2 separate regions of the Homo sapiens genome follow, and region 2 is linked to region 1. Evidence: fine-mapped expression QTL. A gene starts in region 1. The other region holds a variant in brackets. All regions are shown on one strand. Distances are between the middles of the regions. Region 1 holds the start of BORCS6 (BLOC-1 related complex subunit 6). Region 2 overlaps PFAS (phosphoribosylformylglycinamidine synthase).

Region 1 (4,382 bases):
TCCTTTGGCTTATTAATCACTGCAACCCCACACAGACTCAGCCTCAGCCTTCGCAGCAGCAGCACTTTAATTCCACAAAAACTCAGAAAGCCAAAACTGATTAGAACACTCCACAACAGGTGAGCTTCAAAACCAGCAACATTCTACCTGAACCCTGAGAGCAGTGAGACGCCTCCCACCTCACCCCCTCCGCCGTGCAACCCATTCCTCCTAGCTGCACGCCGGTTCTGGCTGGGGAAGTGGTATGGTAGAGGGCCAGAGGGCAGAAGCAGAAGGCTCTCCATCAGCAGGGGTGCATCTTTGCCTGCGGGGTGTTTGGCCAAGGACGGCACAAGCTCCCACAGCCCCTGGCACCTGAGATGTGGCCACTGGAGTCAGGATAGCCACAGTGGGGGCTGGGGCTTCCTCTGTCCCTTTCTCCTGATTACATGTGGGAGTCACGTCCTCACCTTCAAGCAGACCTAAAGCCCCGTGTTCCCAGGGCTGGTGCTCTAGCTAGGGAGGAGAGTTGGGAAGAACAGGGTAGCTACAGATGGCCAACTGAATACAAGCAGAGCAACATCCCTTCCCACCAGGAGAGCCGTTAGAACTTCCCCACATACACCAGCCTAAGGCCCAGCGAGTGGGCACGGGCCAGCTGAACGCATCTGGAAGAGCCTCCAACACACAGGCCTCCCCTCAGTGGGCACTTCCCACCAGGACTCCCTGAAGAGTCCTTAGGGTCCTGCTGGGCCCTGCCCTGGCCAGGACCGGCCTCTCCTGTCCTCCTGGTCACTTGCACAGGGCCTCCAACACCTCCAGAGTACGTCGGATATCCCGGACTTGGCGCGCCAGCCCCTGAACCGGCTGCAGAGCCCGCTCCAGCTCCTCGCAGCGCGCCAGCAGGGTGTACATGCCCTTGATGCTCATGTCCACGGCTTCACCTAAGGAGTCCACAGCATCGCGGTAGGTCTGGATGCAACCCACGCTCAGCGCCGTCAGCTCCTGCACCGCGCCACCCAGACCGCGAAGCAGACGGTCCACCCGGCCTCCCAGCTCCCGACTCAACCGCTCCAGATCCCGCAGCACCTCGGGGTCGATTGGGGGAATGGCCGGTGTGGGTGTGGGTGCAGGCGCTGGGCAGGGCCGCGCAGGGGCAGAAGGCGGGGGTGGAGGCGCGCCGCTCAGACGGATCTTGAGTTGCAGGTTGTTGGCGACAAAGTGGGTAAGGTCGCCGTGGCGGCTCACTGTGCCTTCGAGCTCCAGGGGACTGGAGATGGTGGCGCGGCGTCCGCCGCCCGCGCCGGACTCGGCACTCCCTGAGGACCCGGCGCCACCGCACGCCTCGCTCAGCCCGTCCAGGCTGCGGCTGTCCTGAAGACGGCTGGAGAACGAGCGGCCGGCTCTGCTGCCCGCGGCCGCCTCCTCGTCGTTGTCTTCCTCCTCCTGCTGCTCAACATCCATCCCGCCGCCTGGTCCCCCTCGACGGCAGTCCCTCCCGGAGGAGGGCTTGCCCTCGGGCGGCGCCGGGTTCTTGTGCCGGGAGGACAGGGAAGGTTCGTGCTCTGCACCCGGCGCCCCCCTGCGGCTCCCGGCCCCAGACAGCGTCCCTTGAGGGCCGGGCTCGTTCTCCAGAGCCTCCCGTTCCGGCCGGTGGACGACGCCGCAGCTTGACGTCTTCGGGGACGTCCTGGGGTGGCGGTTCGCGCCCCCAACGTTCTCGGTCTCTTCCTCCCCGGACACCCGGAGGCCTGCGGGCGGCTCAGAGGACGTTCGGCCCGGCCCGCCGCCAAAGACTAGGGCCTGATGTTCCGCTACAGCCAGAAGGTCCGTCTCGGGCCCGGGCCGCCCCCGAGACGACTCCATACTGCAGGTGGGGGCCGCAACGGAGGAATTGGTTCGCCCCGGCTCCGGAGGCAGTGGCTGCGCCTTTAAGGGGCGTTGGTAGAGGCGAGCCGATTGGCAGCGGCTGACAATGGTAAGGACAGGAAAAGCATTTTGATTGGTCGCGGCGACCAGGAAGTCCCGGAAGAAGAGCTGTTACTGCACAGCGGAACACACGTGAACGCCGGCAGGGTGGAGAGAAGGAGGTGACAGCTGCTCCCGTCGCCCCGCCCTTTCTGAAAGCTGATGGGGCAGATCTTAAAGACCAAGGTCCTCAAATTCCTGAGTCCCGAGGGGTGGGGCTCAGATCCTTTCTGCCTGTAATTGTACCCCCCCCAACAGTGATTGCTTAGCAAAAATACCAAGTGGGGAGCCCACTTGGGGTTCCTAGAGAGGTTCTTAGGATGAAAATGGCATATCCTTCTTGGACCATCAGGGTTGAACCTAGTTGACTAAAAAGAAGGAAACCAGAAGTCCAGCATGAGCATGAATGGTTTGCTCTATCTTTCTTGGTTAAGAGACCTAACCACTGAACTGCTCAGAGCGACCCACTGTGGTCAAGGCAGCGGCCTCTGGGCTTTCCTATGCGTTTGTCACTCTTGTTCTGTGTCTCTTGCCCCTTTCACACTGAGGGGTCTCGCCCCTTGGAGGATGGCGTGTGATTTTGCCACGAGGTAAAATATTCAACAAATGAAATGATCACAAATTTTGATATGTGCTATACAGGAAATAAAGTGTTATGATTGAGAATATAACTGAGCAGGCACTAGTTTAGGTAAGGGGTCAGGAAAATACCTCTTTGGTGAGACTTTTAACTAAAAAGAACCAAAAAGACGCAGCCACCCCCCAGGCAGAGAGAAGAAAACTTGAGCTACCTCTCAGAGACAAAGAAGTCTTGACGTATTCAAGAAACTGAGGTGAGGGGGCAGGAGACATTGGGACTAAAACAAAATCAGCAAGATAAGGGGAAGGATTTCGAGCCAAGGAGCTGAACAGGCAGCAGGGGCCACGTCATGCAGGGGGCCTTGTAGTTCCTGTTAGGGAATGGAGATTTCCTCTAAATGCAATGGTGCAGCGACATTGGAAAGGTTGTACATTGCAACACATAGCCAAAGCTTGGAGACATCAGTATTTTTATTTATTTATTTATTTATTTATTTATTTATTTATTTATGTATTTAGAGACAGAGTCCCACTCCGTCACCCAGGCTGGAGTGCAGTGGCGCGATCTCGGCTCACTGCAACCTCCGCCTCCTGGGTTCACGCGATTCTCCTAACTCAGTCTCCCGGGTAGCTGGGATTACAAGCGCCCGCCACCACGCCCGGCTAATTTTGTATTTTTAGTAGAGATGGGGTTTCACCATGTTGGCCAGGCTGGTCTTGAACTACTGGCCTCAAGTGATCCACCCGCCTCGGCCTCCCAAAGTGCTAGCATGACAGGCGTGAGCCACCGTGCCCGGCCAGACATCAGTATTTAATAAAAACAGTTTGCTAACTCTCCTTAGCTGACAAAGGATGTGGTTGTTTTTTCCATTTGGATAGAGAGATGTCTTGAGGCAGTGTCATGCCAGCATTCAGAAGTGCAACTCCCCAGAACTTCCCAGCACTACTATCCCCAGGTGCCTGCCGGGGTCCTAGCCAGCCAACCCTAATGATAGTAGCTCAATCTTTCACCACGCCTGAGGAGTCCACAATTGTCAGCTGTCTGTATCTTATAGTCACCTGCAGCTTGACAAAACCTGTCATTCCTTTGCTCTAAAAAAAAAAACCTAAAAAGCTCATATATAATTGGGCTGGGTAGGTAGATATTCTTTAGAAGATGGGAGGACTTCCCTTGAGAATGGGAAGCTGAGCACAGGAAGAGAGTGATGTGATGGGATTCATGTTTAGGGATTACTGGCTGTTGTAGAAAATGTTTGCAAGGGAGACGGTAGACCAGTGAGGAGGCGGTTCCAAGTACCAGGTGATAGTAGCTCAGCCTAGCACGATGTGGATGGATGCATTCTAGATGTATCTTGAAGGTTTTAGCGGACAAATGGGCTACCCACCGTCTCTCTGTGTAGGGGAAGCTCCTCACTCCTCAACTCCCCATTCCCTGATGTGTTGGTGCAATGACAGCCAGGAACAGGCACGTGACCCAAAACTGGCCAATTAGAGTACTTCATCCTTCTGACTGCAGATTGGCTCAGGGAAGGGCACATGACCCAATGTATGACCAGTAAAAATCCTCCACAGTGTTGTTTGTTTCTAGCTTTGTGGAGAGTGTGAGACGCCTTTCTGTTCTCTTGAGAGCTCAAGCTGGGTATCAGCTTGTCCATCTTTCATGTCCAGGAGATCGCTGTCTGTAGAAGGAAAGAATGAGGCTGATAAGGAAGAGAACCAGAGACAAAAGATGAAGAGGCATGAGTTCTGAGAGCGTTTGAATTCCTGTGCCAGCCTGAAGATAGCCCCACCTTTATCCTTCCTGTGATTTGGTTCCTTGCCCCACCCCTATCGCACCACCTCCCCCGCAAAACCTT
Region 2 (4,382 bases), 65 kb after region 1:
GCCTCCAAAGGGCTAAGATTACAGGTGTTAGCCACTATGCCCCGCCCAATCTGGCCTCTTCTTATAAGGGCAGATTATAAGAGGTTTGGTGAGATTAGTAGCTCATTCTTGAGAGTTCCACTTTCATGACCTAATTACGTCCCAGAGGCCCCACCTCCAAATACCATAACATTGAGGATTAGGGTTTCAATATATGAATTGGGAGGGGGAGATACACAAACATTCAATCCATGGCTGATACCATTTCTCTCAGGAAATTTTTCCTGACACCTGAAGTGCAGGATTGGTGTCCACAGTCCCCTGACCTTCACCACACGGGACTGGAAATGTCTGGGTACTTGGCCTTTCTCCCCCAATAAAATATAAACCCTGTGAGAGCAGACAGAGTTTCTGTCTTGATTCACAGCGGTGTTTCTAAGACCTTGACTGGGGCCCAGCAAAGTGCATGTACTCCAGGAACACGTGTCAGGTGTGTGCCTGTACACCTCCCTACCACATTAATAAAGACCACATTTTGCAAGATTCCTTAAAATCTCCAAGGTTACATTTTTCAGGTTACCTTGTTTCTCTAAATGTCCATATTACTTTCCCCTACCCTATCCATAACGCCGCAATTTTCCTTGAAATCTGAAATCAGTTCAACAGATAGGCCATAGTTAATGTTATTTTTATTTTATTTATTTATTGAGACGGAGTTTTGCTCTTGTTGCCCAGGCTGGAGTGCAATGGCGCGATCTCGGCTCACTGCAACCTCTGCCTCCCGGGTTCAAGCAGTTCTCCTGCCTCAGCCTCCCTAGTAACTGTGATTACAGGCGCCCGCCACCACACCCAGCTAATTTTATATTTTTAGTAGAGACAGGGTTTCACTATGTTGGCCGGGCTGATCTCCAACTCCTGACCTCAGGCAATCCACCTGCCTCAGTCTCCCAAAGTGCTGGGGTTACAGATGTGAGCCACCACGCCCGGCTTAGTTAATGTTATTTTTTAGGAACCTAATTCATCTCTCCAGCAAAGGACACATCTCTCCAGCAAAGGACACCTCTCTCCAGCAAAGGACACCTGCAGAGATGTCCCCAGTCCTTCACTTCTATGTTCGTCCCTCTGGCCATGAGGGGGCAGCCCCTGGACACACTCGGAGGAAACTGCAAGGGAAACTGCCAGAGCTGCAGGGCGTCGAGACTGAACTGTGCTACAACGTGAACTGGACAGGTTGGGCCCAGGTATTAGATTCTTGGGGGACATGCCTCGGTGCTGGGGGCAGTGTCTCAAGGTGTCCTTGCCCTGTCTCCCTGCAGCTGAGGCCCTCCCCAGTGCTGAGGAGACAAAGAAGCTGATGTGGCTGTTTGGTTGCCCCTTACTGCTGGATGATGTTGCTCGGGAGTCCTGGCTCCTTCCTGGCTCCAATGACCTGCTGCTGGAGGTCGGGCCCAGGTAAGTATCTCATCCTGCCCACCCCTTTCTTCTGCTTTCCTTTGCTTCCTCTTGTGATCCTTGGGAGATTTGCTTTTCCTTTGCTCTTTGCTACTTCCTGCCTAGGAAACCACACATGTGCTTTCCCCATTTGGGTAGATCCCTCCAAAGACCTAGCCTGCTCCAAAACATGTTCTCAAAGCAAAATAAATTAGATTCCAAGTTAAAATCAAACAGTTTTGGCCAGGCGCGGTGGCTCACGCCTGTAATCCCAGCACTTTGGGAGGCCGAGGTGGGGCAGATCACGAGATCAGGAGATTGAGACCATCCTGGCTAACACGGTGAAGCCTCGTCTCTACTAAAAATACAAAAAATTAGCCGGGTGTGGTGGCGGGCGCCTGTAGTCCCAGCTACTAGGCAGGCTGAGGCAGGAGAATGGTGTGAACCCGGGAGGCAGAGGTTGCAGTGAACCGAGATCACGCCACTGCACTCTAGCCTGGGCAACAGAGCAAGACTCTGCCTCACAGAAAGAAAAAAAAATCAAATAGTTTTGATGCTAGAGGACAGTTTTGGTTTGGTTTGAGTGTACTTTAAAAGCAGGTTTCTTGTTGCCCAGCCTGAGGCTGAAAGCCAATGGTGAGGGGATAGCGGTGGGAGGTTGTCCAGACAGCAGT[A/G]GGCAGGATCCACCCTCCCAGCTGAGGCCTGCCGGGGGTTCTCCAGTCCTAACCATCAGGCCCATTGTTCAGGCTGAACTTCTCCACCCCAACATCCACCAACATCGTGTCAGTGTGCCGCGCCACTGGGCTGGGGCCTGTGGATCGTGTGGAGACCACCCGGCGCTACCGGCTCTCGGTGAGGTGATGGGGAATCAGGAGGAGGAGATGAGCCAGAGATACAAGATTAGATCCTAAGCTCTAGAGAGAAGCAGGGACAGGTGCTCCTGGCTTTAGGCCTGCTCTGTATGGTCGTACAAGTTGTTCACTGCCTGAAAGTACCTGGTTGAGGGGTAAATGGGGCAGAAATCCAGCCTATGCTTCCTTTAATTTGTGCATCCTGGCATGGATTCATACCTGGAAAGGGCGTCTTTTTGTAATCTGAGAAAAAGTGCCATATGGTGTGGCAGTGGGCTAGCCTTGCATGACTAAGAGGGTAGGAAGGTGGACCATTTCTCTCCATTCTTAAACTCTTCACCCCTTGCCCTCTGTGTGTCTGCACCCCTAGTTTGCCCACCCCCCGTCAGCTGAGGTGGAAGCCATTGCTCTGGCTACCCTGCACGACCGGATGACAGAGCAGCACTTCCCCCATCCCATCCAGAGTTTCTCCCCTGAGAGCATGCCGGAACCCCTCAATGGCCCTATCAATATACTGGGTGAGGGCCGGCTTGCGCTGGAGAAGGCCAACCAGGAGCTTGGTGAGTAGCTGGGGAGGGAGATGTAGGGTCCAGGATAGGCCAGTAGGGGTGCTGAGATCTGGAATGTGGCTGCCTGAGTTCCATAGTCACCTCTTCCTGGATTTGTCTCCTAGGTCTGGCTTTAGACTCTTGGGACCTAGACTTCTACACCAAGCGCTTCCAGGAGCTACAGCGGAACCCGAGCACTGTGGAGGCCTTTGACTTGGCGCAGTCCAATAGGTGAGGAGAAATGGGGTTGTTCCCATACCTGAGCCCATGGGTGTTGGGAGAGACCACAGGGGCTCACCTTCATGTTCCTCCCTTGGCTTAGGGGCCTCCCTGAGTCTCTGAGGGCCTGGGCTCCCGTCATCCATCAAGGAGTCTACATTCAAATCTTGGTTTTATCTTCACTTTGGCTCTGGATAGTCCAAAATGACAGAATACTTGAAGATTATGACTTTTTGGAATATATTTTGATCTGTCATCTAAGTATGAATTTGGCTGTAACTCTGCTGTTAAATGCTGGTGAGAAGACATGGCATTAAGAAATGACCCCGTTTCCACCTGCCTTCCCCTCCCTGCATCGCCCCCTGCAGCGAGCACAGCCGACACTGGTTCTTCAAGGGCCAGCTCCACGTGGATGGGCAGAAGCTGGTGCACTCACTGTTTGAGTCCATCATGAGCACCCAGGAATCCTCGAACCCCAACAACGTCCTCAAATTCTGTGATAACAGCAGGTGCTGTGCCCTAGACTGGGTTGGCGTCAGGACCCGGGGAGGGGAGGCCCCAGGCCCTGGTTGGGTTAGTGTAGGTCCCAGAAAGGAAGCAAGGTCCATGACGGGTATGTCCACAGTGCAATCCAGGGAAAGGAAGTCCGATTCCTACGGCCTGAGGACCCCACACGGCCAAGCCGCTTCCAGCAACAGCAAGGGCTGAGACATGTTGTCTTCACAGCAGAGACTCACAACTTTCCCACAGGTGAGCTGGGTTCCCTGGAGAAATAGGTGAGATCACAGAATAGGGTAGGGCAAAGGTCCCAGGCCCCTGGAGTGGGCCTGGGGAAAATAATCAGGGAAATTGGTTGTCCTTATTTTCAGTGGGGGTGGTCAGAGATGGGGGTTTGTCTCTGAGGCACCCAGACCTCTCCCCACTCTCTCTTTGCAGGAGTATGCCCCTTTAGTGGTGCAACCACTGGCACAGGGGGCCGGATTCGAGATGTCCAGTGCACAGGCCGCGGGGCCCACGTGGTGGCTGGCACTGCCGGCTATTGCTTTGGAAATCTGCATATTCCAGGTTCCATCTCCTTCCTCTCTATCCACCTTCCCTTCCAGATTCCTTGTCCTGGCAGGCAGCAAACTTCTATCTGTTAGGTCCATAGGGTTATCCTGTGTGCCTTTTCTCAGGAGGAAGGGCTCTAGGATAGCTGGCCTTTCACTAACTATGGTCATAAGTGTAGACCTGGGGAGATGAGGTGGCCAGACTGCTTTTGCAGGTCTACGATTTTCTTTAAAAACTAGCCTTCATTCAGCCAGAAAGCATGATATTGGGTTGGTCTTATGATCAGTACCTGCCCCTCAAATCT

What was found. PIP is the estimated chance that this variant, and not a neighbour inherited with it, causes the effect.
Region 2: its variant is the best candidate, but not a certain one, in a credible set for the expression of BORCS6 in whole blood (INTERVAL, PIP 0.58).

The regions. Positions count from the first base shown.
Region 1 is chr17:8,188,296-8,192,677 of GRCh38, forward strand. It overlaps BORCS6 (BLOC-1 related complex subunit 6), which reads right to left and starts at 1,885. Exons shown (of 1, transcript NM_017622.3): 1 at 50-1,885. The coding sequence starts at 1,845. The coding sequence ends at 772. LOC124903913 (a long non-coding RNA gene) reads right to left here. Exons shown (of 2, transcript XR_007065604.1): 2 at 2,980-4,205. RefSeq lists enhancers at 1,052-1,698, 1,677-1,956, 1,699-2,344, 4,162-4,261 and silencers at 1,137-1,186, 1,257-1,316, 1,517-1,566.
Region 2 is chr17:8,252,871-8,257,252 of GRCh38, forward strand. It overlaps PFAS (phosphoribosylformylglycinamidine synthase), which reads left to right. Exons shown (of 28, transcript NM_012393.3): 2 at 989-1,209; 3 at 1,296-1,431; 4 at 2,157-2,262; 5 at 2,632-2,821; 6 at 2,935-3,040; 7 at 3,397-3,537; 8 at 3,654-3,778; 9 at 3,965-4,093. The coding sequence starts at 1,068. Among named protein-coding and RNA genes, the nearest start is that of PFAS, 5.8 kb to the left of the region's middle. The variant A/G (reference allele first, on the strand shown) is at 2,085.